Linked DNA regions of Homo sapiens: region 2 is linked to region 1. Evidence: fine-mapped expression QTL. A gene starts in region 1. The other region holds a variant in brackets. All regions are shown on one strand. Distances are from middle to middle. Region 1 holds the start of ZMIZ1 (zinc finger MIZ-type containing 1). Region 2 overlaps ZMIZ1 (zinc finger MIZ-type containing 1).

Evidence for each region. PIP is the estimated chance that this variant, and not a neighbour inherited with it, causes the effect.
Region 2: its variant is fine-mapped to the expression of ZMIZ1 in whole blood (INTERVAL, PIP 0.95).

The regions. Positions count from the first base shown.
Region 1 is chr10:79,060,769-79,075,473 of GRCh38, forward strand. It overlaps ZMIZ1 (zinc finger MIZ-type containing 1), which reads left to right and starts at 8,198. Exons shown (of 25, transcript NM_020338.4): 1 at 8,198-8,502. ZMIZ1-AS1 (ZMIZ1 antisense RNA 1) reads right to left here and starts at 6,680. Exons shown (of 10, transcript NR_024431.2): 1 at 6,620-6,680; 2 at 5,680-5,818; 3 at 4,979-5,051. RefSeq lists silencers at 6,239-6,448, 6,489-6,538, 6,639-6,848, 7,649-7,718, 7,979-8,958, enhancers at 7,112-7,957, 9,159-9,208, 11,514-12,017 and a cis regulatory region at 7,831-8,516.
Region 2 is chr10:79,277,342-79,292,046 of GRCh38, forward strand. It overlaps ZMIZ1 (zinc finger MIZ-type containing 1), which reads left to right. Exons shown (of 25, transcript NM_020338.4): 9 at 12,434-12,548; 10 at 13,618-13,835. Among named protein-coding and RNA genes, the nearest start is that of PPIF, 63 kb to the right of the region's middle. RefSeq lists a silencer at 2,345-2,514, enhancers at 7,657-7,776, 8,227-8,416, 8,630-9,280, 8,827-9,446, 9,281-9,931 and cis regulatory regions at 7,891-8,391, 8,879-9,379, 8,977-9,477, 8,993-9,493, 9,002-9,502. The variant C/T (reference allele first, on the strand shown) is at 11,513.

The DNA of each region.
Region 1 (14,705 bases):
GAATGTCATCCTCTGACACCGTCACTTCCTGAGTCCCCACTGCAGCTTAGTGACATGGAATCAAGAGACCAGGGTTCAAATCCCAACTCTGTCACCTCCTTTGACCTTGGCCAAACCATTATGCCTCCTGAACCCTTAGTTTATTCTTCTACGAAGTGGGTTAGCAATCCCTGCCTGCCTCTTGAGGCTGCTGTGGCACTTGCGTGAGACGTCAAGTACTTTTTACAAACTAAAGAGCTGTGTCCACAGGAGGAAGGGGGTGCCAGGAGAGCTGGCTGTGGTGGCAGTGCCAACCCAAGGGTCCCTGGTGGACACTGGACAGTGGCCAGGATGCTGCTCTCTTAGAACTGCTGCTTGGGGTAATCTGGGTCAAACTAGCCAATAGCCTGTGGAGAGGAGGTCTGAGTACCAGACAGCTCACGAAAGGGGCAGGAAGCAGAGGATGAAATGAAGATGGTAAGGGAGAGTTGGAGAAGTCCTTTTTCCTCCTAAGACCAAAGGCAGAAGGCAAACTAGCAACTTAAAAAACTGTTTTTGTCTCTGTAGAGCTGTTCATCATGTTCCCCTTTCCCCCACAAGACCTTCACTATTGCAAGAGGCCTTAATGTGTGAGCTGAGGACTGGCACCTGCCAAGTCAGGTGGGGGTGGGGTGGAAAATCCTCATATGTCCTAGAATCAGACAAGTGTTTCAAACGATTTTGGAAGAGGGATTTGTGTCGCTCTCCCAGACAAGCATCCCAAGTCCCCTCCTGGTAGGGTGGGAGGACAGGCTGGCGGGGAGGGAGGCCCAGCGCACCCCAGGCTGTGAGTGGATGAAGAAGGAAAGCAGGGGGTGGGGGTGCTCCTCCAACCCTCCCCCAAGTGCCATCTGATTTTTGCAAAGAGGGTGAAGGCAGCAGGAGGCTCAGAGCCAGGGCCAGGGAGGCAGGTGGAGAGGGTGTCCGTGGAGGGGCTGCACCGTCAGCCTGGGCCCCCAGTGGAAAGCAAAATAGAAAGGCCCTGTGTCAGCAGCCAGGCCCCTGGGCAGCCGGGCTCTCGGCTCCATTCTGTTCAGTGGGATTCTGGTTGGCACCAGCTGCAGTCAGGAACAATGCCTGGATTTCTTTCTTTCTTTCTTTCTTTTTTCCATTTTAATAGAGGGGGGAGAAGGACCAGAGCCACTCATTGAACAGCTCAGAATTGTGGAGGCATCTGGGACCGTGTGTCCTTGAAAACAGCACAGTCGCAGGGGCCCCACAGCTGGCTGCAAGGTGCAAGAAGGCATGATACACTGGGAGCTCCAGGTCCCAGCCCTGCTGCTGTCTCATACTTGCTTGCTGTGTGACCTTAGGCAGGTCCATGCCCCACTCTGGCTTCCCCACAGCCCCACCAGAGCTTGCCTTCCAGGACCCACTCAATGCCAACTCTTCTTCTTCCCCGAACTCTTAGAATGGCATTGGGTGGCCGGGTGCGGTGGCTCATGCCTATAATCCCAGCACTTTGGGGGGCCAAGGCGGGTGGATAATGAGGTCAGGAGATGCAGACCATCCTGGTTAACATGGTGAAACCCCATCTCTACTAAAAACACAAAAAATTAGCCGGGTATGGTGGCATAGTCCCAGCTACTCGGGAGGCTGAGGCAGGAGAATGGTGTGAACCTGGGAGGCGGAGCTTGCAGTGAGCCGAGATCTCACCACTGCACACTCCAGCCTGGGCGACAGAGCAAAACTCTGTCTCAAGAAAAAAAAAAAAAAAAAAGAATGGCATTTGGTGTGGGCAGTCCTTCCTGAGAGACTGTGAGCCCCCAGAGGGCTGGTTCTGGTCATCCTCCATCCTGTGGGCCTCTATACCTCCCCTGCTCCGGATGGCCTGTCAGCCCCCAAGGCCTTGCACTGGGTGATGGGATGTAGCAGTGAGCCATCCTATGACCTGCAGCCTTGACAGAAGAGGGCCATGTAACACAATACCTCCCTAGCCTGTGAGGTGTCATACTAGGAAATGAAACTCCCTGTGCCTCAGTTTCCTCATCTGTAAAATGAGAATACTAATAGCTCAGAGGATGGGAGGAGTTCATGTGTATGAGCTACTCAATGCCTGGAACATAGCAGGAACTTCACAAGTAATTCCTATGGTTATGCTGATGTTGGAGGCTGGGAGAGCAGCATATGGGGGTTAAGACAAGGAAGACGGCACATCTGGTGGAGGTATCAGGGTAGGCTTCCAAGCAAGTGGTTGCAGATGTGGCCTTGGTGACTGGGAGGGGTGTGTCCCAGGAGGTAGGAAGAGCATGAGCAATGGCACAGAGGTAAGAGTATGTACATAATGCTGGCAATTCTGGAAGTCACCCTGCATGGCCACAGGATGAGGTGAGGGCAAGGAAGCATGAGTCTTGAGGCTGGAGGACTGCACAGCCAGAAGGAGGAGAGATGCTGAGGATCTGAGACCTTCCCCCACCCCTCTCGGGGTGCAGGAGCTATCAGGAAGGAAGTGGGAGGCATGGTCCTCCTCAGGTCGCTTGTCCCAGACTTCCTCATCAGTGCCGCATGTACTTGCTCCTCTGGAGGGGCCCTGACGCAGGTGAGGGGACACTGCATGAGGAGATGTGGCTCTTGCACCCCCTCTTGTCCCCCCACCGAGTTGCTGGGACTACAGGCATGTGCCACCATGCCTGGCTGAGACCTGGCTCTTGTTCCAGCTCTGGTGCTTCCCAGTGGTGCAGTCAGGGAAAGCCATCACCTCCTTTTGGGGCTCAGCTTAGTCACCCACAAAAGGGCTGTTGTGAGGCTCAGAGGGTGAGAGGTGCCTCATGAAGGGAGGCGTTAGGGTCATTACCTATTCACAGTCCTAGATAGTCACAGTTCTGAGCAGCTCCCTCCAGGTATTTTCTTGTCCCTACTCCACTAAATGGCCCCCTCTGAAAGCCCTCCCTAAAGCAGGGCCGCCCTCAAACTCTAAAGTGAACTGTAGCTCAGTCCAAGGGTTAAAGGCTCAGACCTACAGAATCTTAGGACAATCAGAGGCAAAAGTGCTGGTGGATATCCCACACTCTCTCACTTGGCAGATGGGGAACAGGCACAGGGAGAGTTTGTGATGTGCTCAGGCCACACAGCAAGTCAGGCAATGGCGGGCTGGGCACATAGGTGTCCCGGCTCCTGAGGCAGGCTCCCAGCCTATTCTCTTGTGACTCCCATCTGAAGAAGGGGTTGGTGGTTGAACTGGGTCTCGAACCATAGGGCAGAACTCCATGGTAGAAAGTGAGAAGACGGCTGGCTTGAGGGAAGGACATTGGAGAGTCAAGCCTTGGAGGATGGGAAGGTGTGGGCTCAGAGAATGGAGGGGCCATCTGATTGGAAATGAGGGGGAGGCAGAGCAGGGGAGCCTAATTCGCTGAAGGACATAGATCTTCCCTGCTTGACCCAACCACTCACCTCTTAGAGGCACAGGGCTCAGAGCTGGGCAGGGCCCAAATGCTTCCTGTATCCACCAAGGGGTGAACTCTAAATGTAATCTCCATTACCTCACTGCCATGGGAGGCACCCTGGTCATTCCCTGGCAAGTGGGTGAGAGTCTTTACTTCACCCCAAAGTACCTGGTAGGTTACCTTATCTGCACCATAACCTGGCAGTGAGATGAGGGCAAGTCCCTATTCTCAACCTCAAGGCCCAGCCCAACCTGGAGCCCAATCTCGGCTCCACCCACTTAGCAGCTCTGAGATCTTTATTGTTTTGTTTCGTTTTTATGAGACAGGGTCATGCCCTGTTGCCCAGTCTGGAGTGCAGTGGCACAATCATGGCTCACTACAGCCTCAGCCTCCCAGGATCAAGTGATCCTCCGACCTCAGCTTCCCAAATAGCTGGGACTACAGGTATGTGCCACCATGCCTGGTTAATTTTTGTATTTTTTGTAGAGGCAAGGTCTTGCTATGTTGCCCAGGCTGGTCTCGAACTCCTGAGCTCAAGTGATCTACCCTGCCTTGGCCTCCTAAAGTGCACAGATTACAGGCATGAGCCACCATGCTCAGCCAGCTATGAGATCTTGAGCAGGTCACTTAACCTCTCTGAGCCTCTTCCCTTAGCAGGGAATGACACCTGGCTTGTGGAGAGAATACAACGAATGTTTCCAAAGTGCGTGGCATACAGTAAGTACTCAATGAATGAGATTTTCTTCCCACCTCTCTAGTCTCAATTTTAGATGTTCCCTGGCTCCCTTAAGTTCCAGAAGTGAGAGGTGGAGAGTGGGGACAGAGAAGGCAGCTCCTGGACAGGTGGGAATCCCCACTGTGTACCCGCCCCCATCCCAGCCCAGCCTAGGAGGCCATACTCGCCGCACCCTACACAAGTCCTTTGCTTCCCTCAGGGACCTCAAGCCTCCCACCCCCACCATCCTGCTGGCCTCCAGATTTTCTGCCTCCTGAAACCTGGGCCCAGGCCCCAGCAATGGTCCTCTCCCCAATCTGCTGGTGGCTCCCACAGGACAGGGAAATTAACAGCACTTGAGTGTGCTCTGAAGGTTGGTACAACCTGGCGGCCCCACACTGCCCATGCCCTCCTAGTGGAGCCAGGTGACTTCTGGGCCTGCAGGGGCTGAGCAGGATGCATCTTCCAGCTCTGGGCCACGAGGAAGTGATGGCACTGTCCTCTCTTGTCTCACCAGCAGATCTCCAGGCCCAGTGAGGCTGAGACTTTGGGGGTGAGGTTGTTGGACACACAGTTCCCAGTGAGTCCTGATGGCACCATGGACCTTACAGGGGCTCAGAGGGGGAAAGCAGCTTGCTTGGGGCTACACAGTCTATGGATGAACAGAGCCAGGGCTGAGGGGACAACAGGAAACTCTGTTCATGGGGGCCCGAGTTCCCATCCTGACCAATCTTGGGCAAGTCATTCACAGTTGAGTTTCCTCTGAAAGGGGGATGGTAGCGGCACCTAACTTAAGACAATGTGACAGTTCAATCAGGGAACTGAATTCTCAATACCTAGGAGGACCCACCACAGTACTCACCACATAGTAGACAGTAAATAAGTCATAGCTTCTTCCAAGACCCCAGAGGTATCCAATCTACCCCATTACCTCCCTGGAAGATGAACAAAGAGAGCAAGGGCCTCAGAGACCCAAGGACTGGAGCCTAGGGAAGACCCAGGACCCTGGTGGGCTTTCTGACTTGCTGCCATGCTTGCACAGAAGGGGAGGGTTGAAATGATCCCTGGTTCCATGCTACTAAGTTGAGCCTACTTGGCTCCTCTGCCCTCTGCAGCCACTTCCTGGGTTTCAGATGTAAATACTGGTGGGAGAGTAGGGGGCTGGGATGTGGGGTAGGGGGTGGAGCTTCTGGACAGGAGACTTTGAACATGAGTGGTCACCTCCGAGGTCACCTGCATCCCCCAATTCCTGGAAGTGGGCAGGCCCTGGATACTTATTGAGGAATCTGGACAGAAAGGTTGAGAGGGCTGGGCGTCCAGACCTAGCTGGTCATTAAGGCAACAAGAACTGGTCTAATTGTGGGCTGGGCTGGATTATCACATCCCAAATCCTTAAATACCCAGAAACTCTCTTTTGGGATTTTGGACCTGGGTATGGGGTGGCTGCTGCCACTGCTGCAATGCTGTGGATTGCTGGGAGTGGGACAGCTGTGGCTGCAGCCACCGTTCTGCAAGCTTAATTCCTACCTTCGGAGGTTTCTCAGGTGGCCCTGGTGTACCTACCTGTGAACTTAGGCCACCCACAGGCTGAGGAGGGGCTCAATCACACAGCAATGTGCTGGGACCATGACTCCCTGGTGTCCCTAGAGGTCTGGAAGTGCTTTCATACCACCCACCCTCTCCAGGGATGCTCAGCTGCCACCTACAGGGAGGGCGGGGGTGGAAGAGCAGCAGTCATCACAGTCCATGTCCATGTGACAGGTAGGAAGACTGAGGCCCCAAAGGAGTGCCTTTTCTTGCACCCAATGGCATAGGGAGGCAGAATTTCCCCTGGGGAAAATAAAATAACGCCCCCACTCCGCCGCCTGCGCCCCCACACACCCCGTCCCCCACGCCCGGGTGGACCTAAGCAGCAGTTTTCTGAGCTTTCAGGAATTCCAGACTGAGTTCACTGGCTGTGAGACTAGCGGAGCCTTGAGAATGAATTCAAAGCTGGCAAATTCATTTTGCCTCCTCTCCCTCGGTGGTGGAAGGAGTGATCTCTCCGGCTCTGAAGGAGTTCAAGCCGAGGTCAGCGAAGCCCTCAGAAGGATGTTCTAAAATGGGGGTGGGGGGTAGTGCTCCGGCCTGCTTCCCCGGTTGGCCCAAGGTCCGCGCTGATCACCGCCCAAGAGGCCCAGGAGACCCGCAAATCTGTGCTGCACGTCCGCACTCCCATGCGGGCCTCGTCAATCAGGAGGCGGCTCCGGCCAGGCCTGGACATCTTCGGCCCGCCCCAGGCCCCGGGGGAGACCCCCGCCTGGGCCGCCTCCGGGTGCCCGCCCCCCGGCGGTGTCATTGTTCTCTGACGTCACGCCTCAGCCCCGCCCCTCTCCCCCCACCCTTCCTCCCCCACCTCCGGCTCCCCGCGCCCCCGACCCTGCAGCCTCCGAAGCCCCGGCCGTGCAAGGCTCCCCCCGCAGCCCGGCCGGGGCTGCGCCCCCTTGCGCTCTCCCCAACTTGCCTTTGTTATTCCAGCTCCCTTCCTCGCCTCGCCTCCGACACGGTGGCAGCCTGCAAAACGTGGAGCGCGGAGTCACTGCCACACCTGGAATCCGAAGCGGGCTCCGCCGGCTCCCGGCCGAAGCCGCCCCCGCCTGCCGGGGAGGGGAGCGCGTGCGTGGGCGGCGCGTGTGTGTCCAAAGAGGGCTGCGCGGGCGCCAATTATGATTGGGACTGGGGGTGCCGAAAATCAGGGGTGGGGGGCCTCGAGGAAGGGGTATGGAAGAGGAAGTGGGAGAGGAGGGCGTGTGTTTGTGTGTGTACGTTAACGTGAGGATTTAGTGCCCAGGGGAACGTTTCGTGTTTTGTTTTTTGATTGTATGTGGGGTTGTGTACAGCGATGTGTGTGTGTAACTGCGTGTCTCTGAGCGTGCCTGCTGTGGCCGTGTAAGCGGGCATCTTTGTGAGGGAAAGTAAGCGAGTGTGTGGGGGCGCGTTTGTGGTTTGGGGGGGAGCGTGTTTGCAATGCTGAGGGAGCGAACGTGTGTGCCGTTCTTGTAGGAGTTTCCGTGAGAGTGGCAGTGGACGTGAGCCAAAGTGGGCGCGTAGTTGGATGCTCTCGGGGGGGGGGGGTGGGTCGGCTAGGGGAACTCCCGCGAGTGGGTGCACCCAACTGCGCCTCGTGAGTACCTTAGCTCTCCGCTATCTCTGGCAGTGCCCAGTCCGGGGCAGAGGGCCAGGCCCCAGCCTAGCAGCTCCCACGCAGCCCGCGCGCACAGCGCCCCGGGCGCTCCGCGCCGGGCCTAGGGGAATCCACGCGTCTCTGGACTGTGCTAGGTGCCGCGGATCAACTGTGGCCACCACACCCCCGCTCCCCCACAGCTGTCGGGGGGCCGCGCTCTAGTCTCCCTCAAAGTCACCCTTGGTGGTGGTGGTCCTCTTCCCACCCCAACCACCAGTCCCCGGGCTGTAGGAACAATTCCAAAGTCAACCCCAGGGGAAGGCTTTGGAGGTCCAGTTACCAACTCGCTTACCCCAATTCGGGTACCTGACAGCGCCCGGGGCCACGAGTGCACTCCAGGCGGGGGCGTGCCAGCGCGGGGCAGGGGCTCTCGGGTGAGCAGTGTGATTTTGGCTTCCTCCCCAAGGTGGTCCCTACCTAGGCTCAGCATTTGTTCCCCTCTCCAAACTTACTGGGGCTGGGGCCTGCAGGGGGGCTGGGGGCTGCAGGGGGCGTCAGGGAGTAGCGGAGGGAGTAGGGCAAGGAGAGAGGTGAGTGGACTGGTGGCGTAGCGGGGAACCAGGAGCCAGGAGAAGAAAAGCTGGGAGAGCGCCGAGACCGAGGAGCGAGGAAGAGAGGAAGAGAAAGGAAAGGAAAGGCGAGGGAGAGAACGAGGAGAGGCGAAAAGGAAAGGGGAAAGAGAGCGCAGAGCGCGAGCCAAGCCGAGCGCCGGCAGCGGCGGCGGCGCGGCGCGGCGCTCCACTCCGGCCTGACTCCGCACCGGCTTTTGCGGGCGGCCGGCGGCGCGGGGCCCTTTGGAAATAGAATAGCCAATGTAATCTGACACTTCAACTTGCTCGGCTCCGGGCGAGTTGATTCACTTACTCACCCCCTAACGCCGAGTTCCTTTTCACTGTCTGTGGACATTAAAAAAGCGAGCGGCGGCGGCGGGCGCCGGGGAGAGCGGGCGGCCGGGCGGCAGGCGGGCGAGCAGCGATCGGGCGGCCGAGCGAGCGAGCAACGCCGGCGCAGCGCGGTGACCCCAGCCCCAGCCGGCGCGGAGCAGGAGCCGGAGCCGAGCGGATCTCGGCGCCCTCGCTGCGCTCCTCCCGGCCCGAGCCTGCCCTACCCGGCGGTGGCGGCGGCGCGTCCTCCAGCGGCGGCAGCGGCGCTCGCAGCGCCCGGTAAGTTTGGGGCCAGAGCCAGGCGCCCGCTGGCTCCGGGGCTACCTCCCGCTCCCCGGGGACTCTCGGGGTGCAAGCGTGGGGATTGGGTGCTGGGGTTTTTCCCTTAAAGTGTCCCCCGGAGCGGGGCGACCGGCCGGCGGCGCGGGCTCCGCTCCGCTCTCCTTGGCGGCCGGGGGCCGAGGCCCGGCGGCCGGCGAGCTCCCGGCTGCGCGGAGCCGGCTTGGGCTGCGCGTGGGGGCCGGGTTTGTCAGGGTGTGCGGGGCGTAAGTGTGGTCGTGCGCGCGCGGACCCGGTGCCCGCCTCCTGCCGGCGCGCCTCCAGCCCTCGCTCCCTACACCCGGGGGCCGGGCAGGACCGGGAATCGGAGGAGGGAGGGAAGGACCGCCTCGGTCTCCTTCGCCTCCTCTGGGGAGATGCGAAGTTGTGCGCCTGTGTGTGTACAGGAACCGCTGGGGAAAGCGCTGGATTTCAGGATGGCAAGGGGTGGTGGTGTTAACTTGTGCGTCTGAATTTCCAGGGAAAACATACACTTTTGTAAATGGGAGGTGGGGGCGCGGTTAAGTTGTTTGTGTGGGAATTGCCCGGGGAAAGCTGGCGCGCGGTACAAACGAGAAACGCGGAGGTGTGTGTGCAGGGTTTTCTCCCAGGGCTTCGCAAGCCAGAGGGGCGCTCAGGCCAGTGCCTGGACGGGGCTGCCCCGGCCAGGAGGGGAGCCCAGGGGGAAGATGTGCGTGTGTGTGCGCGCGCGCGTTGCAAATACGAAAGTAATTTCCCCGTGTTCTTTCTTCCTCTCCGTCTCCGGCGGCGGTGGCCCCGGGGGAGTGGGAGGCCAGCCGGGGCGGAGGTTGGGGGGCCGGGGCTGGAGCCGGGGTCGGGGGGGGGAGGCGGGTTCTGGAAGCTTGCTTCACATTCCTGGCGTCTGGGCTGGGGAAAAAACAGTGGGGAGCGCGGCCTCGGCGTCTAGGGCGCGGGCAGCGGGCGCGCGTCGCCCCCTCGCTGGGGACATCTGTCCAGGAAGCCGGCCGGGCGGGGATAGGGCGCGGTGCGGAGGGCAGGCTCCCCGCCCTGGAGCGGTGGGGGCGCGGGCGAGGGGCGGCCGCCTTCCCGGCCATTGTGCGCCAGCAGATTTTCACGGGAGACTGCCCCGGAGCCGCCGGAGAAGGCCGGGAGCCGGCCTCAGCCCCGGGTTTAAAAGACACTCCAGGAATGTAAACAACCCGGGCGGGAGGGCGGGCGGACGGGAGCGCGCCAGGGCAGCCGGTCCGGGCCCCCCACCCCTCCCCGGGGACAGCCGGTCGGCACTGCCGCCCAGCCCTACCCCTCTACCTGCAGCAAACTTTTTCCTTCTCTGCCTTCCCTTCCCACCTCGTCCCTCCAGCAGGTCACAGAGCGAGGGCCGCTCCCAGGTGGGCCAAGGGTGCTTGGTACCCTTGCCTGACCGGGGAGGCCTGACGGCCGGGTCCCTGCTTCGGTGCCCGGAGCCCCGGCTGCGCCTGCCCGGGAGCCGTCAGCTTCCTGGGTAGGCAGTGCCCGAGTAACTGGGGCTTTGAGCCTGCCCGCCTGCCTCCCTCCCTCCCTCCCTCCCGCTGCTCCTTCCCCCGCGCGCTCTCCCCCTTCTCCTCTCCCCTGACTGCTTTTCCAATGCCCTGACATGAGGGAGGAAGATTTAACTTGGCAGCCCAAACAAATGTTCTCTCAGAGGTCCTCCAAGAAGCTGGCGGCTGGGCTGGCGGGGTGAGGGCACGGCTCGGCCAGCCTTTCCCTCCTCTCTGCTCTGCCACGGACATTTGGAGCCCTCTGGGTGGACAGCCCAGGGCATGGGAGAGTAGGGCCCAGCCCCAAAGATTTAAAAGGGCAGTGGGCGGCCGCCTGTGGAAGCCCCTGGCTCCGCGCCGGGTGCAGAGCCGCTCCGAGCTGCCTCCTGGTGCCAAGGGTTTTCTGAAGGATTTTCTTGAGCAACAGTTTGTCTCCCTGCTGCAACCTGGGAACCGGGCCTGGTAGACCAGAGGGTTAACCAGTGCCGACTCCTCCTCCCTGGTGGGTGTGAGGACAGGCTGGTTACACAGGGCAGGGCAGGAGGCCAGAGGCTGTTCCCAGAGGTGCCTGGGTTTGCTTATTACTGTTTTTGAAGGTACAGATAAAGAGGCAGGCGCCGGGGCTGGAGAGCCGGGCAGCTTGGCGCTGGTGAATTCCAGCCTGCGTTCGCTGGCGCTTGTACGGTCCCGGGAGTGTGAAGCTGCTGTTGAGCTATCGGGGAAGTTGAGATGAGAGAGCAAGCTCTTTCTTAGCCTTCTCAGCCCCGGCTGCTTTGTGAGGGGGTCCAGAGTGGGGGAAATTCCTGGCCCCTCACTTGCTGGCTCCTGGCCCCAGTGCAGGGGCCGGGTGGGTTTGTGAATACCCCAAGCCTTGGGCTGACCTTTCCCTCTTCAAGTCGAGGATGTTGAAACATCAGCATCAAACAAAAGACACATTGAAAGCCCTATCTGCTACAGAGCACGTGTGAGTTGGGGGCCCAGGGAATGCATTTGGAGGGAGATGGTGTTTTCTTCTGAGCTTTATGATTTTCGGTTGGGTTTTGTTTTCCCCCAAAGGACAGAAGCGTCTCCTTGTCCCAAATCACGAGGTTTTGAAACGCTGTTTTCACATGTAAATCTCAAAAGTTTAGACTTCTGAGAGTTGGTGGCAGTGACTGGGGGTGGGGGCTGGGTGGGGGGAGGAGAAGGGAGCAGTAGGGAGTGGATTCAAGAGGTGGATTTGGCATTTTGGGTAGGGCTTACTGAGAAGAGTTGGGAATAAGAAATTGCTGGACTTATGAATAAATAGCCTTGTCTATGCAGAAAAGGGTTGCTGGCTTCTTTGTGGGGACAAAATGTCCCTTTTCCCTCCTAAGCAAAGGGGGGAGGAGGGTTCTTGTTCCTCTCACAGCCAGGGGCAAAATGAAGAAAGGTCCAGAGACTGCGGGGTTTGGCGACAGAACCAGTTTCTCCCTCACGCACGCGCGCACGCACACTCACTTCCCTAGCCACAATAACAACGATGTCTCCATCCCTGGCCCCCATAGATATGCCTCCAACATAGGACAGGTGTCCATGCTTGACTCATTCCAGAAAATTGCAGGGGCAAGGACCCAACTGAGAAGAGCTGCAGACTTCACTTTTTTTCCTGTTTCTTCCTGATGGCGGGAGGGGTGAAGGGATTTAGGAAGGAAGGCACTTTGAGGCCTGCTGCATCCTGAGAGTTTTGTCACAAGAATACCTGCGTATAAAGCCACTGACCCTGAGGGTCCAACGAGTGGCCATGACCCTGGCCTCAGGGTGAGGCATTGTTGTAAGAAATTCAGGCACCAACCAATTAATTTCCAGAAGCTTCTGTAGGCACTTGGTCGTGGGACCAGGAAGCAGGGCCTGCTGGTTCGTGGCTGGGTCCTCTACATTTTCATTCATAACTTTGCTCCCCAGGGCCCTGGCCCAGCCCCTGTCACTGCTGCCTGGTCTTTATGAGGCTCCTTAGATTTTGTGTGGACAACAAAGGCCAGGCTGCCACGATTACCCAGGACACTGCTGCAGCCTTGCCTGGCGACAGCTCTGACCTCTTAGCAGGATATAGTGCTCTCTGCTCATGCCCTTTGGGGGAGTGCTCTTTGTCCTTAAGAGTCCCTCAGGATGGGGAGGCAGCAATCCACCTGGCTGTAAGCTCCGGGGCGTTCTGAGGTTGGGCCCTGCCTTTAGAGAGGATGAAGGGAGAAGGCTGAGAAAAGCAGTCCTAGGCATAGGCTCTGGGGAGAGGCTAGACCCCATCATGATTGAGAGGGTCTCCCTATTACCGGAGGAGATGGGCGAGAGGACCAAGGTGTCAGGAGGCTGTTGCTTGCTATCTGTGTTGGGCCAGTAACTCTCCTGTGCTGGACCTTAGTCTCCTGATCTGTAAAATGGGTCTGAGGGCAGAACTCCTCCGATCCCACTTGGTTGCTGGGAGAATGAGGCAGATGTGGGCATGAGTCCCCTAGGCATGTGTCCCTTGAAGGCCTGGGAGGCTCTGGGTACAGAATGGGTAGAACACAAAGGGTTTAGATTGCAAGTGCTAGAAGCATTTTGCTGAAGCTGCTCTCATCCAGACCTACTTCCCTGGCAGCTGATTGTCCAGTCTTGGCTTGCATGCCCCCCACAGGACAGGGTACTCATTACCTCCTGGAAGCCTCTGCCTTCAGTGGGCAGTTGTGAGTGTTAACATGTTCTGCTACATGCCTTCTGCAAATCCACACCTCCTGACCCCACTCTGGGCTTGAGATGCTGGGGGGCCCTCCAGACCATAGACTCGTTCTTTCCTGAATGATCCTGGGTTCAAGACCAGTGCCTAGGCAGGCCCCTAGGTAGGGGGACACATTCAAGTGGCTGCTTCTAGCCCTTATTGGGAATGACCTGTTGTGGGGGGTGCAGAAGGGGGAAGGGTCTGCCTGGGGGTGCTCACTGTCATCTGCCTTTGTGTGCCAGGTTTGCCTCTGGGCACTTTCCTTGGAGCGGGGTATGAGAAGGAAGGGGGTGCGTGATGAGGGCTGGGGTTGGGTCGGGCCCGGCATGGGTGCCACAGGTGTTGACTGTGAGTGTCCACCCTGTGGATAAAGACTGTGTCCTGGGAGAGACCAGAACTGTGGAAGACAGTTCCTGTTCCTCAGGAGCCCACAGTCCAGTGCCGGCAGGAAGATCAGTCCAAATAAATAATTAACCGCTACCAGCTGGCTGCCTGCCACGGGCGCGTGATGACAGTAATAACCACAGCCCCTCTCCTTTGTATGGTACTTGGTGGATTTAGAAGCTTTTTCCATCTTTGTTTATCCCCAATAACAACAGTGTAAGCTAGTTACTATTTGGAATTATCCCCATTTAACAGAGCAGAAAACCAAGGTTCAGAGCGGTCAAACAACTGGTGGCAAAGTTAGGACTGAACCTCAGGCCTTACCGATACCAACCCCTGCGCTGCCTCCTTTCCAGTCCACTGAGTGAGCGCTCCAGCCAGGCTCGGACACGGTGCAGAGTCAGGATAGGCTCCAAAACTGGGTGCTGGGGGAATGAGGTGAAGGAGGAGCCATTCTCAGGAAGGGTCACAGATGGGCCTCACCTGTCTTCCCCCTCCCATATGGCAGCACATGGTCCATGCCCCCAGTAGCTGTGTCCCTTTCTTTTGGCACAGTGTCTTACAGCCAGAGCTTGCTTCGAGACACAAATCCTGCCTTGACTGCCCAGGGCACACAGGTCTATACATGGGGCTTCATGCCCTTCTCCGGCTCTGGAGTAGGAGGCAGAGGTGTTTCCAGCCCCCCGGGTCCCCATGAAGCCCAGTGCTCTTCCTTGGGTTCCTATGGTTTCTGTAGTCCCTCTTCGGGCTGAGTCAGTCCCCAGGCTATGTGGGGCACCCACTCCGTGTGAGACCTTAGGTTCTTTCTGCCCCTTGCAGCCTCCACCCTTGGGCCTGGTTTTCTGTAGCTCAGCTGAGTGCCACCCTAGGACAAGGCTGTAGCTAGTGGGGTTCAGGCCAGGGAGCAGCCGGGCAGGCTGAGCTGGCACCTCCCCAGGAAGCCTGGCCCAGCCTGGCACACCTGTGCAGGTAATGACTGTGGCTTGGGAGGGCCCCAGGCCCTGCCTGTCAGGCCCAGCTGCCGGAGTTACTGCAGGATTGTGCTGGGGGAGGCTGGGGTGTCTGAGCTAATTAGATTTCTTAGATTTCAATGCTCCCCTAATCCTGTTAGTCTGGCTGTAATTGTAACCACTTGAAGGTTTCGGCTGTGGCAGGCTGTTGAGGACAGACGGTGGGGGGACTGTGCTCTGCCCCAGCCCCAGCTCCACCCCTAGACAGCCAGCTGAGGGCCTGGGGACTGCCTTCTTAGGTCTTGAGGATGGGGGCTTGAGTGATGGTGGGTGTCGTGTTTTTCTGTAGAAACTGAGTATCGCAGACTGTCAGAGTGGACATAGCCCTTTGAGATCACCCAGCTCAAACCCTTCACTGTTCAGATGGGGAAACTTAGGCCCACAGAGGGACAGAGACTGGCTCAGGACCTTGATGGCTGGTAGCAGTGGAGCATCAAAGACTAGTGGTCTGACTTTGGGATATTTGTCCCTAGGCACTTCAGGGAAAGTCTGGAATTTCCAGGGACTAGTGAACCCTCCAGAGACTTCTGCCCCTAGAGATAGGGCTTGGGGGGCTTC
Region 2 (14,705 bases), 220 kb after region 1:
CATGGGTGCAGGTACTGAGCAGACACCCCTCTGGTCTCAGATCTCCTTGGACATGTCCCTGGGGTGGGGGCCTCTGTGCAACCATGAGGATGTTGCATTTTCTAAGGTGCAGTTGTTTTTTTACATCTTCGTGGGTGAGCCCTGTTTCTCCCTCTCAAACAGGTTGAAAGCACTGAGTTTGTCACTTTGGTGGAGGCTGTTTTTCTTCAGGTTCTAGGCTTCTGGCAGAACGTTAGAAATTCTGAGCTCAGCACCTTCCCTCTTTCTTGACCAGGGTATTGGGCAAACCCAGAGAAACCAGGGGCTGACAGGGATCTCAGGAAGGCCACGGGGTTGGTGGTTCCAGCCAAGATGGGGACAGAGCCAGCCCAGGCCAGCCACCCTGGAGCCAAGTAAGACTGGGCTGGGTCCACCAGAAGCCCAGGGTCACAGGCAGGCATGGGCTTGCTGGAGGCCGACAGCACCGAGGGATTGTCCAGTCCACCTGTGCCAGCCTCAGAAGGAGCACGTGGCCAGGACTGGCAATTCCCCCAGTTAATTATCTTTTGAGTCCCTTGCTGAGCTGGGGATGCTCTCTCTGAGCGCTCTGCAGGCTGACCCTGCAACAACAGGGCCTGTCATGCTGTCTGCTCTCCCCTGTGTGTGTCTCCGCTAATGATCAGGAGGGTCATTTGCAGTCAGAGCTCGGCTCTCATTATCCAGCCTGACTGAGGGACCCGCAGCCCAGAGCACACTGCAGGCAGACCTGGGTCGCACCATCGAGGTGCTGCTGGGAACTCGGGTGTCAGCCACGCTTTATAAATCGAATTAGAGGCTTGTTGACTTTCTGAGCTGGAAAGGACCTTAGTGCTCATCATGTCCAGTGCCCTCCCTGGGCCTGATTGCCCCTGACATGTGGTTGCCTGCCTTGGTCATAAGCCCTTTGTACCATCGCAAGCCCACCACCACCCAAGGGCACTGCCTCCTCAGATCCTGGGTCTGGCTGCTGAGCAGCTCCAAGCTTCTCTTCTGTAGCAGTGTTCCTTAGTGCATTTACACAGGGTAGTTTTTCTTTTTATTATTATTATTTATTATTATTATTATTTTAATTCTTTTTTTTAATTTTTTTTAGTATTTATTGATCATTCTTGGGTGTTTCTCGGAGAGGGGGATTTGGCAGGGTCATAGGACAATAGTGCAGGGAAGGTCAGCAGATAAACACGTGAACAAAGGTCTCTGGTTTTCCTAGGCAGAGGGTCCTGCCGCCCTCCGCAGTGTTTGTGTCCCTGGGTACTTGAGATTAGGGAGTGGTGATGACTCTTAACGAGCATGCTGCCTTCAAGCATCTGTTTAACAAAGCACATCTTGCACCGCCCTTAATCCATTTAACCCTTAGTGGACACAGCACATGTTTCAGAGAGCACGGGGTTGGGGGTAAGGTTATAGATTAACAGCATCCCAAGGCAGAAGAATTTTTCTTAGTACAGAACAAAATGGAGTCTCCTATGTCTACTTCTTTCTACACAGACACAGTAACAATCTGATCTCTCTTTCTTTTCCCCACATTTCCCCCTTTTCTATTCGACAAAACCACCATCATCATCATGGCCCGTTCTCAATGAGCTGTTGGGTACACCTCCCAGACAGGGTGGTGGCGGGGCAGAGGGGCTCCTCACTTCCCAGACGGGGTGGCCGGGCAGAGGCGCCACCCACGTCCCAGACGGGGCGGCGGCCGGGCGGGGGCTGCCCCCCACCTCCAGGACGGGGCAGCTGGCCGGACAGGGGCTGCCCCCCACCTCCCGGACGGGGCGGCTGGCCGGACGGGGGCTGCCCCCGACCTCCCGGACGGGGCAGCTGCCAGGGGGAGGGGCTCCTCACTTCCCGGACGGGGCGGCTGCCGGGCGGTGGGGCTCCTCACTTCTCAGACTGGGCGGCCGGTCAGAGACGCTCCTCACCTCCCAGATGGGGTGGTGGCGGGGCAGAGACACTCCTCAGTTCCCAGACGGGGTCGCGGCCGGGCAGAGGTGCTCTTCACATCTCAGACGGGGTGGCGGGGCAGAGGCGCTCCCCACATCCCAGACGATGGGCAGCTGGGCAGAGACGCTCCTCACTTCCTAGACGGGATGTCAGCCGGGAAGAGGCGCTCCTCACTTCCCAGACTGGGCGGCCGGGCAGAGGGGCTCCTCACATCCCAGATGATGGGCGGCCAGGCAGAGACGCTCCTCACTTCCTAGACAGGGTGGCGGCTGGGCAGAGGCTGCAATCTCGGCACTTTGGGAGGCCAAGGCAGGCAGCTGGGAGGTGGAGATTGTAGCGAGCCGAGATCACGCCACTGCACTCCAGCCTGGGCAACATTGAGCACTGAGTGAGCGAGACTCCGTCTGCAATCCGGCACCTTGGGAGGCTGAGGCTGGCAGATCACTCACGGTCAGGAGCTGGAGACCAGCCTGGCCAACACGGCGAAACCCCGTCTCCACCAAAAAATAGGAAAACCAGTCAGGCATGGTGGCACGCGCCTGCAATCCCAGGCACTCGGCAGGCTGAGGCAGGAGAATCAGGCAGGGAGGTTGCAGTGAGCCGAGATGGCGGCAGTACAGTCCAGCCTCGGCTAGGTATCAGAGGGAGAGACCGTGCAAAGGGGAGAGGGGGAGGGAGAGGGGTATTATTATTACTTTTTTTTTTTTTTTGGACAAGATCTGGTTCTGTCACCCAGGCTGTAGTACAGTGGCGCAATCTCGGCTGACTGCAAGCTCCGCCCCTGGGCTCAAGTGATCCTCCCATCTCAGCCTTCCAAGTAGCTGGGACCACAGGCATTCACCACCACCCATGGCTAATTTTTTGTATTTTTAGTAGAGATGGCATTGCCCAGGCTGGTCTCGAACTCCTAAGCTCAAGGAATCTGCCTGCCTCAGCCTCCCAAAGTACTGGGATTATAGGCATGAACCACCATGCCGGCCTATTATTATTTTTAAAAGACAGGGTCTCACCCTGTTGGACAAGCTGGAATGCAGTGGCACTATCATAGCTCACTGCAGCCTCGACCTCCTTGGCTCAAGCGATTCTCCCACCTCAGTATCCTGAGTAGCTGGAAGCATAGCCATGCACCACTACACCTGGCTATTTCTTTATAGTTTTGTGGAGATAGGGTCTCGCTATGTTGCCCAGGCTGGTTTCGAACTCCTGGGCTCAAACAATCCTACCACCTTGGCCTCCCAACGTGCTGGGATTACAGGCATGCACCACTACACCTGTCTGACACAGGGGTAATTTTTCTTGGTGCAGGACTTTGCAGGGCATTTGGCGTCTTGGTCCCTACCCACTCTGTTCTTTTTTTTTTTTTTTAATGCCCACGCTTGGTTAATCCCACCCCATTCTTCTGATGACTGCCCTCTTCCCCTAAGCATTATCACAATAAAAGTACCCTCCCACATTTGAGTCTCACCTTTGGTTAAGGACCGCTGCTCTAAAAAGACAAAACCTGCCTCCACCTCCCTCTGTGTACCCTTTGCTAAAAGCCACAGTTTGTCTTCATCTGAACCAAGCCGCTGAGCACAGGCTGCAGCTGCATTTCACTTAAGCAGCATACCTTGCAGTTGCCCTCGGGAAGCTTTACCTTATTAATTCTAACTCAGCCGTCCATCCCTCCAGAATCATCCTCCTCTCATCATCCTATGTGTCATGACCTTCCCAAGCTTCTCTCCTCCAAGTTATTTTAGTAAAGTTGTTGCTTATGGTGGGCCAGAGCCCTGCAGCTCCCCACTAGGGACCAGCCTCAGACCTGCTTGACCGTGATTGTTCAGGTCACAGAGTGCCACAAATCTGGATCTCGGCCAGCCCTTTGCCAGCTGAGTTGAGCTAAGGCATGAGGTTGTTCGGTCCCGGGGTTAAACAGAGATGAGGTATTTCTGTGCTCGAGGAGCAGCCTCAAGCTAGTTGGGGAAATAAGACTCACTGGGGCCACGTTGGAATCTGGCAGAGCAGGGCAGGACTAGGGTTCATTGACAGGCAGACTGGGCTTTGGGGTTCAGATGGAGGAAGATGGACAGGGCTGACTGTCAGGAGGCTGCCCAGAGGATGGGAGTCTTGAACTTGAAGGACTTCGGCTGGGAGGGGTAGTTGCATTCTATGAATTCAAGCTGGCTTTCCCAAGAAATGTTATGGGCCGAAGAGCCACTGGCCAGCACCCAGTGCCCTGCTGCCTCCATCACCATGGCCTCAGCTCTCTGTAAGTCCAGCAGAATGACCTAGAATGCAAAGCCAGTGGTCTGAGAGCTTGAAGACCAGGCTGGCACTTACTCTTTGGGCCATAAGTGGTCTGTCAGAGAAAGGAAAGCTGTGTGGGCTGGAAGACTCGCTGAGTACTGGTGGCTAACCAGTCGGTTCCGTGGAGCGAGGCTTCCTCGTGGGAGCACAGGGAGGTGGAGGGCCTGCTAGACAACATCCCACACTTTGAATGGCAGAACTGGAAGGAAAATTGGGCCCAGAGTAGGAAAGTGAATTGCCCCAGAACACACAGCCAGTAAAGGGCAGAGGAAGATATTAAACAGCGCACAGGGCTGTGCTATTTAGCTGGTCCTTCAGGGTCAACGAGGTGGTATCTCGTTGTTAACCCAATTTGGAGGGTCTTTTTAGAAGAGGGTCATCTGTTCTGATCCACAGCTCACCTTTTTCCCATTTAATAGCCCGTGTTCCTTCTCCAAGCCCCAGGCTATTCTGAGGACACGTTGTGGTTAGGCAATTGAAAGTTACACAGTCTCTCCTTGCAACCTTTAGGAATTTCACAAAGGATAAATCCCTCATTTCCAGGGAAACTGCAACGGGGTCCAACACCTCATAAGTCCTCAGTGCAATTTCCCAAACAAGACGGAAAGAAAATGGAAGAGAAAGCTGAGCGCTTTCACAATTAGCAAACTGTTTTAGTCCGTCATCCTCCATAATTTTATTGAATGGCTTGGAGGCAGGAAGCTCTTTTTGCCTTTTCATTAAGGCGACATTGAGCTGGAGGTGAGCTTGGGTGAGCTGGGACAGTTGAGATTTGATGCCCGCAGGTATCTGGCTGTTTGAAGGCTCTGGGTCTTTGTCTGAAGGCTCTGAGGACGAACAAATGGGAGAGGATGAGGGAGCCTGGACACTTGCAGCCCCGCCCTGCCCCGAGGGACGGCAGACGCCTGGAGGGTCCCTGGTGACTGTCATATTTGGAGAGCTCGGGTGTCACAATCATGTCTGCTGCAGGCTGCAGAGCTTTGGCACTGCGGCATGAGGCTGTGAGTCAGGGCCTGCTTTCTTCCACACAAATGCTGTGCCTCCCAGCAAGACCCTTGACCTCTTGGCCTCGTGGTTCCCTGCTGATGGGGGACATGGTGCCGCATGAGCAGGATGTCAGGAAAGGGTCAGGCTGCCATAGCCCCGCAGCTATATCTGGGGGTAAGGGTGGTGACGAGGAATACTAATTATCCTCAGTTTGTGGACGTCTGTAGGCTCACTCCCTGTTTTGTCCTCATCACTGGCTGCAGTGGGGCTGCCGTCTATACTCACAGATACCCAGGATACTATACAAGAGAAGGTGGCCAGAGAGGCCTGGCAAGGTCCAGGACCAGTGCCTGGGCAAGTAGGGCACCTTCCAAGTCCCTGCAGTGACCTGGACTTGAAGCCAGTGAAGTCTTTCAACCTCCTTCTTCCAGATTTTTAATGAGTGGTTTAAAAAGCCATTTGTGATTAGCACATTGTCCTTATGCAGATCAGTGTTGCAAAGGTAATTAAAGGCCTAATAAATCTTGTTTATGCTGTTAATTTGATTACAGTCAAAACTCGCTAGGGCTGGGGAAGCCTCCAAGATTGAGAGGTGCCTTCCTCCTTCTTATAGGTGCGGGATTTATGAACCCCAACAGAGAGGCTTCTGGGCGGGAGGGCCCCTGGCATCCCCTGAGTATAGCAGGTCGGGGAACAGGCCCTGGAGCCAGGCTGCTGGGCCTTGAGTTTCAGCTGGGCCATATTCTAGCTGGGTAACTGGCCAGTTACTTACCCTCCTTGTGCCTCGGTTTCCTCATCTGTAGAAGGGGAGTGACAACAGTGGCAGGAGTGGTGTGCTTGTCGCCAAGCCTGGCACACTGGGAGCCCATGGACCAGTCATTATTCCCCTGATCCTCAGCCAGGTGCCATCAAATTCTTAAGTGCTTATTCATGGCCAAACAAGAAAGAAGGGGGCAATCAAAACCAGCCACATCACACCATCTCCACAGCTGCCATTTTTAGCTCGGTTTTGCATAGCTTCACCAAAGCTCAGTTTATGTTAGGGCTTTGTTGCCCCAAGAACATTTTAAAAACAAAAAAAGAAGGAAAGGGGAGAATTGAAAGACCCATAAATCCCTGCACCATCAGTTCCAGATGGCCAAGATGCAAAGGATTTTTTCCTTTCCTCCTTCCTACTGAAAAAGTTTTAACACCCTCTAATATGCAGTTAGCTGCACAAGTTCCTAAGTTTCACCGCAGGGAGGGAAGGAAGTAGGCCCCAGTAATTGTGATGATGGAGAACACTGTTAATGGTTCCCCTAAATTAAACAGGGTGGGAGCTTCAGCTCCTCACTGGCTTGGCATTTCATTAGCAGTAACACTACAGCCTTGCACGGAGACGGGACCAGTATGGCTGGATCAGGGAAATTAATTAGAGTCTGACAATACCCTTAATGGAAATTGGTTATTTCTCCCAAATAAAGCAGCTATTACAAGTGCAAGGGAAGAAATAACTCAGCCCTCCCCCCGCGTTCCTTTCATGAATGTGTGTGTAGATGCTGCCATAGCGGGTGCACAGGAGCCAGGAATCATCACTGCCTTATCCCAGGCCTTGCTCATTTTCTCACATTCAGCAAAACCTCGATCATTGCCCGTGGAGCTGGCACAGACATGTAAACTGTCTACTGTGACTGCAGTGCAGAGAGCTCTCTATAAAATACGTGAAAAAAGTGCTGAGGGAACAGAGGAAAGTGTCCTTGGTTCTGCTTAGGAGGGTCCTTAAAGGGAGTATGCAGGCTGGGCTTTGAAGTATGGATAGAAGTTTGCTGGCTGGTGAAGGGAAGGCAGAAGAAAAATGAAGAAAGTCTCAGAGGCTTGAGAAGCACATTTTTTCTAGTTGACAGGTAGGAATGAAAACGGCTCCTCCCATTGGTAGCATATTTGAAAAATTCCTAGGCCACTTTCATTGTATCCTGAAGTAAACAGGGGTAGCTGTGTATGGCTGGTTGGAGGACTGGAGAGAAAGGTGTAAGTACAGTTGAGCAGGGTCTTTCTACCAGGTTCTGTGCTAAACTTTACTTTTTTCTCATGTTTCTTAGGAAAGTGTTAGTCCCACTTTACAGATGAGAAAGTTGAGGCTGACTGAAAGTAACATGTCCAAGGCCACAGAAAGCTTCAGTGGCAGAGCCAGGGTTTGACCCGGAAGACTGTAACTCCAGAGCCCACATAGGGAACCTCTCTCCTGCTGGGCCTCCCTCTGTCGGCTGAATATTAACCTCAAAAAGGGGTCCCTGAATCTTTGCCAACACGGCCAGTACAAGCTAAAGCAGACGATTTAGTGTATAAAGAAATTCTTTCCTGGAAGACTATTTGGGTTTTCTCTGCAGCTGGGCTTTGAGGCCCATCTTTACATTTCCCCTGTCCCTTCGTGCTAGGCGACTTCCCCAAGAACCCCCAGGAAGATGCAGCCCTTCTTGGAATTCTTGTGGCTTCTAGGTGGCCTCTGCAGTGTGCTCCCTTGCCTCGTGGCCATCTCTGGAGAGGGGAGCGTTGCCTTGCTGGATCCTAAGTTCCTAAGACAGTGGTGAGCCTGATACGGTCTGGTGACCCGGCAGCCTTGCCCTTGATTGGCTCTGCTACCTCTGTGAGCCCCAGCTTCTAAGATGGGCATCTGTTGGGCCCACTTAATGGGGCACTGAATGAGTTCTTAGGTGAAGGCCACTTCACAAAATTCCTTGCATCTAGAAGTCACTCAGTAAATCAGAACAACAGTAACAGCGGCAGCCAGCAGTTTCAGGGTGTCCAAGGTGTGCGGGACTCTGGGCCTCATACATGTTAGGCACTTACACTTAACCCTCACGGCAGCCTTCGAAGGGAGGGGCTGAATCAGCCCCATTTCATAGATGAGGTTGCTGAGGCATACAGAGAGTGAGCAGTGGTTTCATCGCTTCCCTCTGTGTCCTTCTCTCACTTTCTGGGCCCCAGTGGCCATGTGGCCACAGACACACTGTGTAGGTGGTCGGTCATCAGGCTTAACGAAATGGACATATTCATTTTCAGCATCACTCCAAGGGTGAGTGCAGAGAGGTGGTTTCTCCCTGGCACATTTTTTTGTTTAGCAAAGGTTTCCTGAGCCCTATTGGTGTGTGAAGACATCATGCTTGGCTCAGGGAGCCCAAGAAATCAGTGACAGCTCCTGAGGCAGAAGGGAGAAGGCAGAGGGTTCTCACTCTTGCCAGGAATGCGAAGAGCCAGTGGAGTTCAGTACCTTCTGCAAGGGCTTCCCGGAGGAGGTGGCCTTTGGAAGAGCCTGGAAAGGATGAATGGCATTTTCAAGGTGGGATGGAACTTGCCAGCCTGAGAAGAGGCACAGAGGCCCCTGTATTAGGGAGCAGTTGGCAAATGGAACCGTTGCTGCTGACATTGCAGATGGCTTCTGGCCTTGGTGCTTCTGTGGGTGGAGCAGGATTGTTGGGGCCGTTTTGGCTGGACAGGACTGTGGCTGGGAGCAGCTTATGGTGTGATACTGGGCAGGCCATGCTGGATTAGGGTTGTACAGAGTGGGACAGAATTATTAAAAAATGCCAAGCACCTGTGACCAGGTGAAGCAAGTCTGCAGGTTAAACTGTGCTCGTCGGAGAGAAGAAGGGCTCTCAGGCACCCTCCAGACCCTCCTCCCATCCCAGCCAGGCCATGCCTTTCTGGTAGCAGCCCAGGGGTCTGCTTGGTCCTTCATCCTTGGGAACAGGGACCAGGCATTCCCCCGGTGGTGGTATCTTGAGTCTAGGCAGTGGCGTCACATCAGCAGGGCTGCTGTGGGGGCCTGCGGGGGCGAGAGCCTTCTCTGCGACAGCAGGAGCCCGTCTCCCCCAGAATGAGATGAGTCACGGTCCTGTCGGTGCGGCTGCCACTTCTGCTTCTGCAGCAGGTGCGTGTGGAGGCAAGCTAGTCCTGAGACTGCCCCACACGCTGTGCCTGTCTCTTCCCCAGTGCACGGGCAGCATGCCAGCAGGGCCTCGCGTGTGTGCACGGATGTGTCCTCCATATGCCTGCGTGCATCTTTGCTCTGGGGCGGCAAACCTTCCAGCCAGGCAGTGGGATGGCCAGTTTGGGAACGTTGGTTAGCTTTGCTTCTCACCAAGTTTGGGGCAGAGGGGACAAAACAGGAAGGAGCTGGTTTCCGCCCACAAGGCTCACCCACGGAGCTGCAGGGCAGTTGGGAGCTTGTTCGTGGGCCTGTGTAGCGTCCTGGGCTGAGGTGATGAGGCAGCAGTTGCCCACTCCCTGGCCACAGGCAGGGCCCTGCCGGCCCCTGGGGCCTCCCATGGGGGTTCATTTCCTGAGCCTGGCCAGGCATGTTCTCAAAGGATAGGAACTTCCGTCTCAAGGCCATCAGCCTGGAGGGTTGGTGGGAACTTGTGGGGCAGAAGTTCTGGGGCGAGAAGCCACTCAGGCTTGGGTTTTGTTCAGATGTAGGGGACCCCCTCTGGTCATCCAGCACACCTAGGACATGGGCCTTGAGGACAGCAGGTGTCCAGGGGATCTCCTCTTTGTTTTGTAAAAGCGTGACCTGTAGAGCCTCCCTGTGAGACTCTGGTGTGCCAGTCTGGAACCAGGTGGTGTGCCGGGTCCCCAGTGACCTCCCTGGGAGACAGAGGCTGTTCCAGCCCAGCCTTCCTGAGGAGCAGGCTCATGGCTACTTTCCTGTGTTTCTCTGCACTGCCCACTCCCTCTGGGCTCCCAGTCTCCAATCCGCCACCTGGAGAGCAGAGTCTGTCGCTATCTGTCACCTTTGGCCCAAGCATCTGGATCTTCAACAAGCCACTACCCATCATTGTGCCTGGCCAACTGAGTGCCCTGAGTACAGCTCCTCTACTCCAAATGCGAGTCCTGCAGTTTCCCCAGAAATCACGAGCAGCGCTCAGTTGGGAAAGCCCTTTGACTGCATTCTCCTCTTTGAGCCACATCAGATTTAGGCTGCTGAACCTGTGTTCAAACCTATTTGACCAAGATCCACGATAAATACACATACGACACCTTGACCCAAGGTGCACATGTATTTGTGTATAAAACCAAGACAGAAGCTCAAGGACTAATCTTCATCTTTATTGTGTGCTCACACTCCATCACTTTCTAGTTGATGCTTTTTTCTCCCCTGCTGGTTGGATGTCATCACCTGCTCAGATTCTGTAACCCACAGTTGGAAAACACAGAGTAGAGTGGGGAGGTATCATCTGATGCCCATTTTACAGATGAGGAGATTGAGTGAGGAAACTTGCACCAGGGTCCTAAGCACAAAAGTCTCTGCCGTCACAGAGCTGTTCTAGAGGCAGACAGACAATAATCAAAAAAATATATAATTAGGACAGTGGTGGAGTGCTATGAAAAAAATTCCAGTGCCAGGGTGAGGGGGCAGGCAGTGTCGGGTAGGAGCTGCTTTTTTATACGAGGAGGGCGGGGGAGGCCCCTCCAGCGATCTCAGACAGGAAGAAAGCGAGGGGCTGGCCAGGCTGAGAAATCTAGGGCAGAGGGTATCCAGGCAGGGGAGGGGCAAGTATGAGCAGACAGTGGTGTGGTCCTGCCCTCCAGGCTGGTCGCCTCTGCAGGAGCCCGTCAGACTTGACCAGCATTGCCAAGAGCTCAGCCGGGCAAGGCACAGAGCACAAGACTTGGCTGCCCTGATCTCCGCTGCCTGCGGGTCATGCAGCCCTCCGCCTCCCTCTGGGAAGTCCTCACCTCTGGGCTGGGCTCCTTGCATCCCCAGAGGTGCCTCCTCAGCACCTCCATCCCCAGTTGCCCTGGCTGCTAGGGTTGGACTGGCCACTCAGCTAGGGTACAAGTCTGCCAGGTGTGACTGAGAACCTTTGCCATTTGCTGTCTCCTGTGACTAAGACAGACACAAGCCAGACAGAGGCATGAGGCTCTTTCCTGTTGCCCGGCCCTTCTCCCAATTTCCCTCCCCCAACACACATACGCACACACACATACACACACACACACCCTGTGCCCTGGGTAGAGGCAGTGGCACAGCTGTGGGCGCTTTGCTTTTCTGCTCTTCCTGGTTCCACATCTAGAATTTTGTGACTTGGTGAGGGGGTGGTGCCAGAGAGCCAGTGCCGGCTCTGGTGGGAGAGGCAGCTTCATCCCCAGCCTCCTGGGGGCTGGCACCCTGGCAGGTCTTCATGCCCTGCCCCTTCGCTGGGATCTGCTGGCCTCACTCTTGTGCACCCCAGCAGTCGGTAGGAAGCATCACTGGACACTCACTGTAGACCTAAGCACAAGAGGTGGGGCTGAAGGCTAACTC[C/T]TTGCTTCTGATACGTGAGAGCTCCTTGGGGAGATGTCCACAAACGTGGTGGGTACTGCTGGACCTGGTGAGGGGAGGAGGGGAAATATGGTCCGGGTTGGTAGAGAGGAGGCAGTGTTTAGGGGCAGGGGCAGCTCCACGAGAGGACAGAGCCAAAGCGGGGTGAGGGAATGGTGGGGTCCGCCAGAGGAGTAAGTCATTCTTAAGTGTGTGTTTGGACTCTGCCTTATAAATGCTGGAAGCCACCAAAGGTCTTTGATTGTGCCAGGCATCTTAGGTGTTTGAGGGAGATTAGCTTGGGGAAAATGTACATGAGAGATCGGGGTGGGGGCAGGAGAGGGTGTGCAGCAGGTAGGCCTGTACCCACATTGCTGGGGGCTGGGAAGGAAGGGTGCCGGAAGAAAGCCTGCATTCCCATGGCCCAGGCAGCCAGGCTGCTGTGAAGGGCTGGGAGGTAGAGGGAAGGGCTGACACCCTCAGACTCGGACCCTTCCAGCCTGTACTGAGAAGGGACCAAGCAGTTCCAAGGGTAAGGTGGTTTGGGGGAGCCCAGGCTCTTCCTAAAGGGCAACGTGGAGTCAGAGCCCGGGTGAAGGAGGAGCTCAGATTGGGCCTCAGGTCACACCACTTCATCAGTTGCATGACCTGTGGACTCGGGGATACAGGGAGACACACAGCCATGGAAGTAGCTCTCTGCAGTGATCGGGGGAAAGGTGGCCACTTCTGAACAGCCTGTCACCATGCAGGGCACACTGTTGTGCACTGGGCACTGAGACAGGCCTGGGGGGTCCAGTACCGACTCGGATGGGGGTTACCTTGGACTGACTGGGAGCTGCGGTCACTTGGTGGGGTGATGGGCATGGCCTGTCTTGAGTCTGTGCCTGCCAGGCCCTGAAGATCTCCCTCTGTCTCCCTCTGCAGTGATGGGTCGTTCCCCTATGACTCTGTCCCTTGGCAGCAGAACACCAACCAGCCTCCCGGCTCCCTTTCCGTGGTCACCACGGTTTGGGGAGTAACCAACACATCCCAGAGCCAGGTAAGAGCCTATACTGCCCTCAGCCACAGCTCTTTCTAGGCGGGAGTGTCCCTTGACCCCTGGAGCCATACCAGCCCTCTTCACCCTCACAGGCCTTGCCCTGCTGGAAAGACCAGCTTCCAGGGCACACCCAGCTGTGGACACGTCTCCACCCCTGGCAGGCTCTGCACCCGCCTCAGGAGGGCAGCCTCTATGGACTGTCCCCATCCTAAGGCCTTTCTGGAGGAATGGCATTCATCTGACAGACAGCAAGGGGTTCTTCCCTAGCCCATTTGCTCTGGTAAACAGGAGAACTTCCTCTGTGTTACTGGCTTCAGGGCTCCAAGGTCTGAGGTCTCTGACCCTGGATGTATGGCCTGAGTTGGATTTCATCAAAATATTGTGCCTTGGACTTCTGACAACTCCCTACTCCCCATTGCCCTAGTCAGACCCACCTCCCTCTCATTCCTTCCTCTCTCTTCCACTCCTCCTCTGCCCAGTCAGGGAGTCTCCCACCTGTCTGACCTCTGCCAGCCTTTTCTGTGGCTACATGGAAGGCTCAGGGCTGCTTGTCACCCTGGAGGGAGCCACTGGGCTGACCGGTTGTCGCCTGCTCCTGCTGCCCTCCAGAGCTAGCAGGGTGGGTTCCTCTTGGCCCTCACAGAGCAGCAGCCAGGGGCCTTGGGGCCCCTGTGTGACAAGACGCTGGCATCCAGGCTCGTTTGTGGGGCAGTAGGCTTCATGGCCAGGGCTCTCCCCACGGGTACCTGGTACAAGAGCAGCCTCTTCTCCCTTCACTGGGCTGCGCAGCCCCTGGGGACCGCTTGAACTGGCTTTGTGGGGCTTGGTCATACCCTCAGCTTGTTCCATCACAAGGCTGACGTTCTCATCCCCCACGCCACCTGCCGCCCAGGCCCGCTCCTTATCACCGGTACACTCAGAATAGTTCATCCACCCTCCATTTTTTTCCTCCTCCCTGTTGTCCTGCCTCCACTTTGTTCTTTCTCCCTTTCCCCTCTTCATTTATCCCTCTTCCTCTCCACACTGCCTCGGGTAGCACCTTAGGTGACAACCACTTCTCTGCCCACAGGTCCTTGGGAACCCTATGGCCAATGCCAACAACCCCATGAATCCAGGCGGCAACCCCATGGCGTCGGGCATGACCACCAGCAACCCAGGCCTCAACTCCCCACAGTTTGCGGGGCAGCAGCAGCAGTTCTCAGCCAAGGCTGGCCCCGCTCAGCCCTACATCCAGCAGAGCATGTATGGCCGGCCCAACTACCCCGGCAGCGGGGGCTTTGGGGCCAGGTGAGCAGGGCTGACCTGTGGCAGAAGCCATGGACGCCACCCCTCTTCCTCCTTCCAGTGGGGAGGGACCCACTTAAATCCCAGCTCCACGCTTTCTGCCCTGAGAAGTTATCCTCTGTTGTTACATGAGTTGAAGGGGCTCAGTCATCCCTGGCTCCCAGGGCTGGCCTGCAGATAAGGCGCTGCAGCAGTTGGCCTGTGTTCTGACAGTCGTCAGACTCGTAGAAATAGAGAGGTGACATTCTTACTCCTCAAAACCTCAAAACAACCCTTCTCTAAATTTTGTCTTTAATGAATAGGAAAATATTGAGAAAATCTGGATTGGGAAAGTCGAAGAGCAGGTATAGATGGGGTCCAGTTGCCCAAAGACAGTGAAGCAGTCTGGGAATATCTGCTCTGCCTTGCTGATTGGTGAAAGCAGAACTATGCAGAGACTGCGAGTCCCTTGGCTGGGAAGAAAAGGGCAGGGACTCCCAGGATATGGAGCTCTGGGGAGTGGTGTGAGGCGAGCAGAGGTGCCCATTCTCCTCTTTCCACCCCGCCCTGCCTAAGACCCCCACCTTGGCCTCAGCCCTCACCAGCCCTGGCTGGGTTTCTGGCCTGGGGTTGGCACAGCTATATGACCTGGTGGTTAAACACAGGGATCAGAAACACCTGCAGCTGCAGCCGCAGCTCCGCCATCAATGCTGCAGGGCCTTGGGCAAGTTGCTCAGGTTCTCTGAGACTCAGTGTCCTTCAGAAGATGGGCTCACCAGGGCCCCGACAGCATGCAGTGAGGGTGCAGGCACCCCCAAGGGCTCCAGGAGCACAGCAGCCTGGTCGTTGCCAAGTGGCACAAATGAATGGCTGCCAATCCCAAGAGGCCCCGTC